2 separate regions of the Homo sapiens genome follow, and region 1 is linked to region 2. Evidence: fine-mapped expression QTL. A gene starts in region 2. The other region holds a variant in brackets. All regions are shown on one strand. Distances are from middle to middle. Region 1 overlaps TRPM6 (transient receptor potential cation channel subfamily M member 6). Region 2 holds the start of TRPM6 (transient receptor potential cation channel subfamily M member 6).

Region 1 (5,382 bases), 25 kb after region 2:
CTCTTCCCTTTTTATCAGAATGATTTAACAAGATCTGAAATTATAAATGTTTCATTTGCATGTTTTATTCCCCAGGAGACTGGTTAAACCCTGAAGCGTGAGTGACAACTGAGGAAAAGGATGTCTTTCGCTGCTATTTTGAAATTGGGTTTTGGGGCTGAAATAATGAGGGCTTCAACCAATTTGGAAAGAGGAAGGAAGGGGTATGATATCACTTCACTTTTCACCTTTCTGATGCACTTTACTTGGAAGGTTACTGTTGAGTTCCTCTAATCCCCTATTTGGCTCCAGGAAGATTTATAAATGTTTTACTCCTTAACTCTTGAGTTTATATAATCTAGAAATTCATTCTGACGTTCCATTTTTTTTTTTTTTTTGAGAGGGAATTTCTCTCTCATTGCCCAGGCTGGAGTGCAGTGGCACGATCTCAGCCCACTGCAACTTCCACCTCCTGGGTTCAAGCGATTCTCTTGCCTCAGCCTCCTGAGTAGCTGGGATTACAGGCGCCCACGACTGCGCGTGGCTAATTTTTTGTATTTTTAGTAGAGACAGGGTTTCATCATGTTGGCCAGGCTGGTCTCGAACTCCTGACCTCAGGTGATCCACCCACCTCAGCCTCCCAAAGTACAGGGATTCAGGCATGAGCCACTGCACCAGGCCTCATTCCAAGGTTCTAAATGCCTTTGCTTAGCAAAGCACTATGTGAAAATGTTAGTAAAATTTCTCAACTACTCAGGAGAAATGGCGTTTTAGGGAATTGTGAATTATTTAGTTGACATTCAATTTTTAGAGATGTTACCAAAAATAAATTACTACCAGCTAAATAGTGCTCACCTTTTACCACCAAAGTGAGATGAAGGTGTAAGGTTACTTTGTGTTCTCTGCCTCCTGGACAGACTATTTAGTGGAAAATCAGTCAACACACTTTCTGGTAGTGTTGGTGGAACAGGAACTTGGTTTTTAGATATTTTTAGCCTGGATGCTGTTTTTCTGAGACTGCCCCTCTCGGATCAAGTGTCAGGTAGGTATCCTTGCAGAATTTGGACAGATAGAAGGCCCTGAGCTGACACTTGAAAGTGGATGGGCTGGCTTTGCACTGATGGATTCCCTGAGCCAACAGATTGATTGATGGTACATCCTGATGTCCATCTACCTGGCACTTTGAAGGGATTCTTGCTTCAAGGGAGGCACTCTGAAGAAAAAATAACAAATGTTGATCTGGAGTCTGAAAATATTGTCTATTTGACCCATTCTAGTGTTGTGAATTCCAAGATAAATAAAATAATGCTCTCTTTTGAAGTGGATTACAATAAGGTTAAGAGAGAGAGAGAGATGGTCCAGTGAATGCAAGTAAACATTGTTAGTGCTGTGATGTGTGTAAGAGAGAATGCAGGAAATCAAAATCGGAGTCAGTTATCAGTTCCACTGAAGAAGTAGTTGTTAGATGATAGATTTTTTTTAAGGTGCAAAAAAGTTGTAGAAAGAAAACAAATGACCTGTTATCTTTGTCTCCCTTTACCTCCAATCATGCAAACTTGTGGATGTTTTTTTAAAAAAAAAAAGGTTGCCGGGCGCGGTGGCTCATGCCTGTAATCCCAGCACTTTGGGAGGCCGAGTTGGGCGGATAACAAGGTCAGGAGTTCGAGACCACCCTGGCTAACACGGTGAAACCCCATCTCTACCAAAAATACAAAAAAAAATTAGCCGGGCGTAGGTGGTGCATGCCTGTAGTCCCAGCTACTCAGGAGGCTGAGGCAGGAGAATGGCGTAAAACCCGGGAGGCGGAGCTCGCAGTGAGCCGAGATCGCGCCATTGCACTCCAGCCTGGGAGACAGAGCGAGACTCCGTCTCAAAAAAAAAGTCACTTTTTTGAAGATTAAGGAACATCTGTGAAATTATGCCTTCTCAGAGAGTACCCCAAGATAATTTATCTGGGAACCCTAAAAAGCCATAAAGTGGAAATACAGTTTGAACATCCCTACTCTGAAAATCTGAAATGTGAAATGCTCTAAAATCTGAAACTTTTTGAGTGCCATAAGCGGGAAATTTCACATCTGACTTCATGTGGCAGGTGGCAGTTGAAATGCAGTTAAAACTTTGTTTCAGTCATGCACAGTGGCTCACGCCTGTAATCCTAGCACTTTGGGAGGCCGAGGCGGGTGGATCACTTGAGGTCAGGAGTTTGAGACCAGCCTGGCCAACATGGTGAAACCCCATCTCTACTAAAAATACAAAAATTAGCTCGATGTGGTGGCAGGAACCTGTAATCCCAGCTACTTGGGAGACTGAGGCAGGAGAATCACTTGAACCTGGGAGGCAGAGGTTGCAGTGAGCCGAGATCGTGCCATTGCACTCCAGTCTGGGCAACGAGAGAAACTCCGTCTCAAAAAAACAAAACAAAACCAAACAAAAAACAAAACAAAACAAAAAAACTTTGTTTCATGCATAAAACTATTTATTTATTTATTTAGAGACAGAGTCCTGTTCTGTCACCCAGGCTGGAGTGCAGTGGCATGATCTCGGCTCACTGCAACCTCTGCCTCCTGGGTTCAAGTGATTCTCATGCCTCAGCCTCCTGAGTAACTGGGACTATAGGCGCCCGACACCACGTCAGCTAATTTTTGTATCTTTAGTAGAGATGGGGTTTTGCCATGTTGTCCAGGCTGGTCTCGAACTCCTGACCTCAAGTGACTTGCTCGCCTTGGCCTCCCAAAGTGCCGGGATTACAGGCGTGAGCCACCACACCCGGACAATTTTATGTATAAATTTTTAAAAAATATTGTGTAAAATTACCTTTTGTCTGTGCATATAAGATGTATATGAAACATAAATGAATTTCACATTCAGACTTGGATCCCTCCCCAAGGTATCTCACTATGTTAGTCTGTGAACATTTCTTTGCAATTCCCCAGCCTGACCTCAGGCCAAAGATTAGATATAAAATCTGATTATGTTTTAGGATGACACAAATTGAGACCAACACACCATTTCCCTTCTTTCTCCTTTGCCTTTCCCTCCCCTAAATTACAACAATTAAAAAGCAAAAAACATCCAGTCGATGAAGACTGCCATGATAGCTGCAGAAATGTCAAAATCCTTACTCTCAACTACCACGACCACAACAAATTTGCTGCTCTAGTGGCAGAAGCTAGCACACTTGGTGTTTGTCCTATCAGAACCAACAAACATTTGGTTCTCTGTTGAACTGAACATGGAGGCCTCTCGGAAGTGTGCTGGAGAGTATATTGCAAAGGAACTATTACGAGGTTGGCAGGGTGGGAAGTAAAGTTCTAAATTGAGAATTATTTGAAACATTTTCAAGCTAAAGGCTGCTTTTTTTTTTTTTTTTTTTTT[C/TTTC]TGGTAGTTTTGAGATAAGATAACCGGAGTTGAAGGAGGAAAGTTTCCACATTCTTGTTATGACACGGGCTTCCTGTTTACACCTTTGGAGGGAAAATAGTATACATGGGTTCCTGAAGTTCTATTTTCAGCATGTTTGTTGCTCATTCAACAATCATTGGGTTAGGCCCTGGGGCAATAGAAATGACTGGCATGGGGCCTATAGGAGTTGGAGTCCAGGGAAGATGTGAGCCTGTAAAGGTCATTAAATCATAGTATGAGAGGAACTGTGAGGGAAATTTGGAGGTCAGGAGGCATTATTCTATGAAAAAAAAAATACATCAAAGTTAAGTTCCCAGACCATTAACCCAAAGCCAGTTTTTACTTTTAATATTGCTAGTAATAATACCTGAGCTTTATTCAGACTTAATAAGTCCCAGGAAGAATTCTAAACCTTTATCTAATCCTTTCAATAGTTCTATGAGGTACTATTATTATCCCCATTTTGATAGACAAACAGGCATGAAGAAATCGAATAATTTGTTCAGGTAGTCCTACTACAAAGCTGCCATTCAGCATTTTGAAAGAAGTGAATGGTTGAGCACAGCTTGCCTATTTTGTCTATACAGGCTTCTACATTAGATACCCTTTTAGCATCTGTTTTTAATAGTTAATTGGCCTTGAACTTGTCCCAGAGGCATGAAAAATACAAAAAATTAAAAAAATAGTTAATTGGTGCACATAAAGTTTAATGATATCAGTTTCTTATCTGTTTCCTCCTTTTTATTCTAACTTCCTTGAGAGCAGGAACTTTGTCTCGTTTGCAATAGAAGTCCCAGCATGCAGCGTGGGGGCCTATTCAAAATATTTGTTGAATGAATTCATAGATTCAGGTATTTTGAAATTCAGAATGAAGAATTCTTTGAGGACATACTGACTTTTTGTAACATGTTTGTCAGTGCTTTGCAAAAATTAGGTATTTAATAAATGTTTGGAGAATGAATAAATGAAATTGTTAACGTTTTTGAATAGGGGACAGGGCTGACTGATTCAAAAAGATAGTGTCATTTCTTTCTTTCTTTCTTTCTTTTTTTTGTGACAAGGTCTCACTCTGTCGCCCAGGCTAGAGTGCAGTGGCACAATCATGGCTCACTGCAGCCTCGACTTCCTTGGGCTTAAGCAATCCTCCCACCTCAGCCTTCTGGGTTGCTGGGAATTATAGGCACATGCCACCATGCACGGCTGTTTTTATTCCTGTATTTTGTAGAGACAGGGTTTCACCATGTTGCCCAGGCTGGTCTGGAAGTCCTGGGCTCAAGTGATCCACCTGCCTCGGCCTCACAAAGTGCTGGGATTACAGGTGTTGGCCACTGCGCTCAGCCGGATTGTGTCATTTCTTATTGAAATATAGATTTTGAATTCCCTGTTCATTTAGTTCCTTTTAAGTTCTGTGATTCTGGGTTGGGTGTGGTGGCTCATGCCTGTTATCCCAGCACTTTGGGAGGCCAAGGCAAGCAGACAACTTGAGTTCAGGAGTTTGAGACCAGTCTGACCAACGTGGTGAAACCCTGTTGCTACTAAAAATACAAAAATTAGCCAGGCATGCTGGTGCATGCCTATCATCCCACCTACTCAGGAGGCTGAGGCAGGAGAATCGCTTGAAACCTAGAGGCAGTGGTTTCAGTGAGCCGAGATTGCGCCAGATTGCAGTGAGCCAGGCTGGAATGCCTGGGCAACAGAGCAAGACTCCGTCTCAAAAAAAATAAAAAAATAAAAATAAATAAATAAATAAATAATTACATTGTATGACTGGGTTTTCCCAAGTTTTTTAGTGTTTTGCCAATTTAGTGAATGTCTTTTAATACATAGAAAATGCTGCTGAGCATGCAAAAAGAATAAGAGAGTAAAATGATTTAAGATGACTCTGGCCTTGATCTGGGAAGTTTTCCTTGTTTATAGGTAAGATTTAAATACACAGGAACCCATCAACTAATCTCTGTTTTTCTCCTTTCTATTTTACTTAAAAAAGTCTGGACTTCCATTATCTAC
Region 2 (5,382 bases):
TGCCCAGAATAGTTTTCTTTTTATTTATTTATTTTTTGAGATATGGTCTTACTCTGTTGCCCAGTCTGGAGTGCAGTGGTGCCATCATAGCTCACTGCAGCCCCGACCTCCTGGGCTCAAGCAATCCTCTCACCTCAGCCATCCAAGTAGCTGGCACCACAAGTGTAAGCCACCACGCGTGGCTAATTTTTGTTTTTTTTTTTTGTACAGATGGGGTTTTGCCATGTTGACCAGGCTGGTCTCGAAATCATGAGTTCAAGTGATTCTCCTGCCTCGGCCTCCCTAAATGCTGGGATTACAGGCATGAGCCACCATGCCTGGACAAGAAGTTTTATATACAAGTTTGACAACTGATTAAAGTGCTTGTGAAAGATACAGATTCCTGGGCCCCACCCTATAAATCCTGATACAAGAGATCTGGGTAGGGTGGTTGGAGCCTGGGAATCTGCACTTTTGACAAATGCCTCAGATGTTTCTGATACAGCTTGGGAACCAAAGGCAGCTTGTAAACTAGTACATTCAATGCTTTAAGCACTTCACATTGCCCTTGTATTTCAGGCTCTAAATGCCTTGAAGCTTGATCTGAAAAGAATATATGATCATCCTAACATGTAGGTTTACCAAAGATGGTAAACTAGAAGATGGTAGACTTCTTACAAATCTTGAGTTCCAAATGGCTACTCTTCTTGGTGGGTCTGAAGATTTCTGAGAACTCTCTGACCCAGTCACTGTAAGAGACCTAACAAAGAAATTGTATGGAAGACAGAGATCGAGAAGGATTTACTTGCCTTAGAAGAGCTTTCAGAACCTGTTAACTGTTTACAGATTAACGCTTTAAAGAAGATGGGTTAAGGAGAGGAAAGGAGATTAAATGTGTTTATAGAAGAACAACAAATGCCTAGCACTTAGGGAGGCTGAAGTGGGTGGATTGCTTGAGTTCAGAAGTTCGAGACCAGCCTGGGCAACATGGTGAAACTCCGTATCTACAAAAATTACAAAAATTAGCCAGGTGTAGTGGCTTGCACATGTAGTCCTAGCTACTTGCGGGGGCTGAGGCTGGAGGATTGCTTGAGCCCAGGAGGTGGAGGTTGCAGTGAGCCGACATAGTGCCACTGCACTCCAGCCCGGTGACAGAGCGAGACCCTGGCTCAACAACAACAGCAACAACAACAAAAAGAAAAACAACAAAATGCCAATACACATATGAGAGATTACAATTTTCCAATAAACAAAGAAATGCTTATTAAAACCACATTGAGAAATGAGGGGAAAAAACCTGTAAACTGTCTGCAAATGTGAATTCACCAGGCAAAAATTCATAATAAACTAAATGAGTAGGTGTCCCTAATTTTAAGTCGGTTGTCAGGGATGAATGACTAGCATTGTTAATTACACTTGTAATAATGTGAGCATCATTTTGCCTGTGTGCTTTGTGCCACCTCTGCCAACACCCTGGGATCCACCCCAAATCACTGACCACAACCTTAATCAAGACTGCCTAGGCCGGGCATGGTGGCTCACGCCTGTAATCCTAGCACTCTGGAAGGCTGAGGCATGAAGATCGCTTGAGTCCAGAGTTTGAGACCAGCCTGGGCAACATAGTGAGACCCCATTTCTAAAATAAATAAATAAATAAATAAATAAATAAATAAATAAATAAATAAAATTAGCCAGGCACTGTGGTGTGTGCCTGTAGTCCCAACTACTCTCTGGAGCCTGAAGTGGAAGGATCACTTGAGCCTGGGAGGTCAAGGATGCAGTGAGCCATGATCCTGCCACTGCACTCCAGCCTGGGCAACAGAGCAAGACTCCATCTCTAAAAAAAGAAGAAAGAAAGAAAGAGAGAAAGAAAGAAAGAAAGAAAGAAAGAAAGAAAGAAAGAAAGAAAGAAAGAAAGAGAAGATGCCTATCCAGAGGAATCCACCAAAACAAAACAAAACAAACAAAAAAAATGAAAAAAAAACCAGAAATAACAAAACATTTGTATTGTATGTTACACATGAAGCACATTAAGTGATTTCCTTTGTTCATTGTAACCTTGTGAGGGAACTGGATTTTTGTCCCTATTATTCCCATTGCATAGATAAATAAACTGAGGCTTGACATGCCCAATAAGTCACAGGTAGTAAAAGCAGTGCGTTAGCTTAAATCTCTGATCTCCTCACGCCCCACACTGACTCAACAGTAACAATACATTACTACAAAGGATGTCTGTGATGACAGTGGCCATCCCATTTGATCCTCGTTATTCTTCTTTTATCGAAGGAAACTGAGAGTCACCTTCTTTTCTAGGCAGTTAGGTAACTGAAGCCGAAAGGTATTGTGACAGATCCACTGGGCTGTAAAAGGCAGCGTGTGGAGGTGGAGCCCAGAGTTTCTGCCTCCACAGTTAAAAGCTCAGACAGGGCTTTGGGAGCAGGGCCTGCAAATCAAAGATGAAAGAACAACCTGTCTTGGAGCGCTTGCAGGTAAGCTCAGGCTGCTCGACTGGCGGGGAACAAGGACCTTAGGCGATTCGCTAGATCTGCGCCCCCGGCCTTAGATAGAAGTGGGTGGGGCCAGGGACACTACATCTAACGAGGATCTAGAATAGCTAGGATTTATGAAATACCGGCTTTCAAGTTCTCTGGTCTCCACCCAAAGATGATTATCCTATCTAAGGTAGTGTACGCTACTACAGGGCAGGTCCCGCAGCCCCCGTTTCAAGAGCTGGGATGCGGCCATAGCGGAGGTGGTGTCAGAGCGGAAACCTAGCGGGGGTCGGGGGTTCAGCTCGGGGCGGTGGGAAACACCCCGGGAGAGGAGGCAGCTCTGATTCCGCTCCGGGCCGGAGGGAGAGGAGTTCGGAGGTGGCTTGAGCTGAGAATCCGGAGGAGAGAAGGCGCGTTTTGAGCTGCCACGGGCACAGATCTCAGACCCGGACGCTGACTAGCCGGGGGTCGCGGCTTTCCGAGGCGGCTGGAGAAGTGCCCAGACGGCCGTCCCTCCGCGCCCCTGCGCGTCCCCGTGCGCCCAGTGTTCCCCGTGCAGGAGTCCCGGAGCGATGACAGCGCCGGTTACGGTAAACACCCGCCCCGCCGCAGTCCGCTTCCTTCCCCAACGCGGCGCCGCCCGGACTTGCAACCTCAGGAGTCCCCGCTGGCTCCTCTCCACCGCTGGCATATGGCGCAACAGGAAGTTCTGGGGGCTTGGAGAGGGAGGGTGCTCCTGGCTGTTGGGAGAGCACTGGAGACGCTTGGGAGAGTAGTGGAGATCCTGGTAATTTCTTGGTCTCGCCTATTTTGTCTGGACTTTCTCACACTGTGTATGAAAAATAAGTATAATTGAGCACATTGTATTTCAGGAATAGTCCAGGCAGCTTAGCAAACGTTAGCTCATTTCAGCCTGCTCTGATAAGAACATATGCTCTGGAGCCAGGTAGCCTGAATTAGCATCCCAGCTGCATCACTACCTGTGATTTTGGGCGAGTTAACATCTGTTCTTCGGCTTTCTCATCTGGAAAATGGGATAATACGATTTGTAGTTTCAAGATGAATTGAAATGCTACATGCCATTTGCACTTAGAATAATGCCTGACGTATTTAGCAGGTTGTAAGAGTTTGGGATTCTTAACTATTTCATCCTGGCAGTAATCCTATAAAGTCCAAGTATCCTGTCTCTCCCATCTCCACCGGTTTACAGGTGAGGAAAATGAAACCAAAGGAGAAAAGCAGATTTGAGATTTGAACTCAGGTCAGTGCTTTAAGACACGGAGAACATAAAAAAGAAAAAAAAAAAAGAGAAAAAAAGACACTGAGAACATAGATGTTCTAGTCATACACATCATTTGTGATTATTTGTTCTAGGGAGAAATGATCACCTTTAATTGTTAAAGTGGGAAACGAGTTATTCAATTTCTTTCCCCCTGTATACAGATTTTGATGTTTCACTGTCATCTGCTTTGGGTTCTTACAGGACTGATAAAGCGTTAGCTATTTTGGCCAGACTGGAATCTGGGCTTGACTTTAAGAATCTGGTTGTTTCTTATGTTTCCCACCAGGAGTGGTAACCATCTAGGGTAGGAGTTAGCATGAGTTTTGTTTTTTGGGCCAAAACTGGAGACTAGTACCCTTTGGTAGTGTTAAACTTGTCTTGATAGACAAGGGCATGAATAGCATTTGAGATCATTATACCAGAGGTGAAGGGAAAGAATCGTGCAATATGTTGCAATTTGTCACAAATTTTGGTCTTATCTTGCCTATTTACAATTATCTATCATAGTTAATTTTTTGGATAGGACATCTATGCCAAAACTATCAAGCATTTGGTAAATACTGTGCCTGAAATATGGCTTCTCTCTTTTTCCTTCTTTTTCAAATTTCTCACTTTTTATTTTATTTTATTTTTTTGAGACAGAGTCTCGCTGTGTTGCCCAGACTGGTCTTGAACTCCTGGGCTCAAGCAATCCTCTTTGGCCTCCCAAAGTGCCAAGATTACAGGCCTGAGCCACTGTGCCTGGCCTCACTGTGTTTTAAATCATGAGTTTTCAGTATAAACAGCCCAAATAATCTGAGTGATTTTCATTATACTTCTGGTAGAATCAATACCATGCTGGAACTGAAAGTGACCATCCTACCTATAACTCAGTTATTCCTTTGTGACACATCAGAAGTCTACATGGCAACTATTTTCTGTAAAATCCATCACTGTTAGGTAAGATATTATGATGTGAGTCTCACTAGTGCCTTTTTTCTTTACTTCTTAGTTTTATTGAAGTTTTACGTTCTCATTGTTCAGAATCAATTAATTCCATAGGGTTAATATCTAAAAACAGTAGAACCCTCCATCACTTCCTGCTTTTTAAGAGAAGTAATCATGTTCATCTCTTTTAACTAGTTACTATTTGTCTGTATCTCTAGATATTCCTTATAATTGCTCCTTCTTGGTTTTTGAGGTTTAGTCATCATGCATTGACTTTCCTGCAAGAAATGTGTGGATTTAACTCTTTTCTGTTTTCCTGCCACTACCACTTACATGCATCCTACCTATTCCTTCCATAGATCCTCTGAATATAGTTATCTCATAATTTTTGGTTAGGTCAATATTTAGTTAGGTCAACATTATTATGCCTCCCTACATGCTATTAAAAGCTTTCTTCCTTGTTTTTTTCCAGAGTTGTCTCTCTGTGTTTGCAAAGTTTTCACCAATTTAACCACAAGTTCTTTGTTAGTTGTCTAAATCTTCCCTCAAGATGTCCAATGCAACAGCTATTTGAATCAATTTTATTTCTATCACAGCTTTCTTACCTGCTTTGCCAGTCCAGACTGGTTGCTCTTGATGTTTGATGCACAGCTATTACCTTGGGCTCTCTCTTCACCATCATTTGGGGACTGATTCACTTTG

What was found. PIP is the estimated chance that this variant, and not a neighbour inherited with it, causes the effect.
Region 1: its variant is fine-mapped to the expression of TRPM6 in whole blood (INTERVAL, PIP above 0.99).

The regions. Positions count from the first base shown.
Region 1 is chr9:74,860,069-74,865,450 of GRCh38, reverse strand. All of the region lies in intron 1 of TRPM6 (transient receptor potential cation channel subfamily M member 6), which reads left to right. Among named protein-coding and RNA genes, the nearest start is that of TRPM6, 25 kb to the left of the region's middle. The variant C/TTTC (reference allele first, on the strand shown) is at 3,355.
Region 2 is chr9:74,884,910-74,890,291 of GRCh38, reverse strand. It overlaps TRPM6 (transient receptor potential cation channel subfamily M member 6), which reads left to right and starts at 2,371. Exons shown (of 39, transcript NM_017662.5): 1 at 2,371-2,468. The coding sequence starts at 2,436. RefSeq lists an enhancer at 2,985-3,279.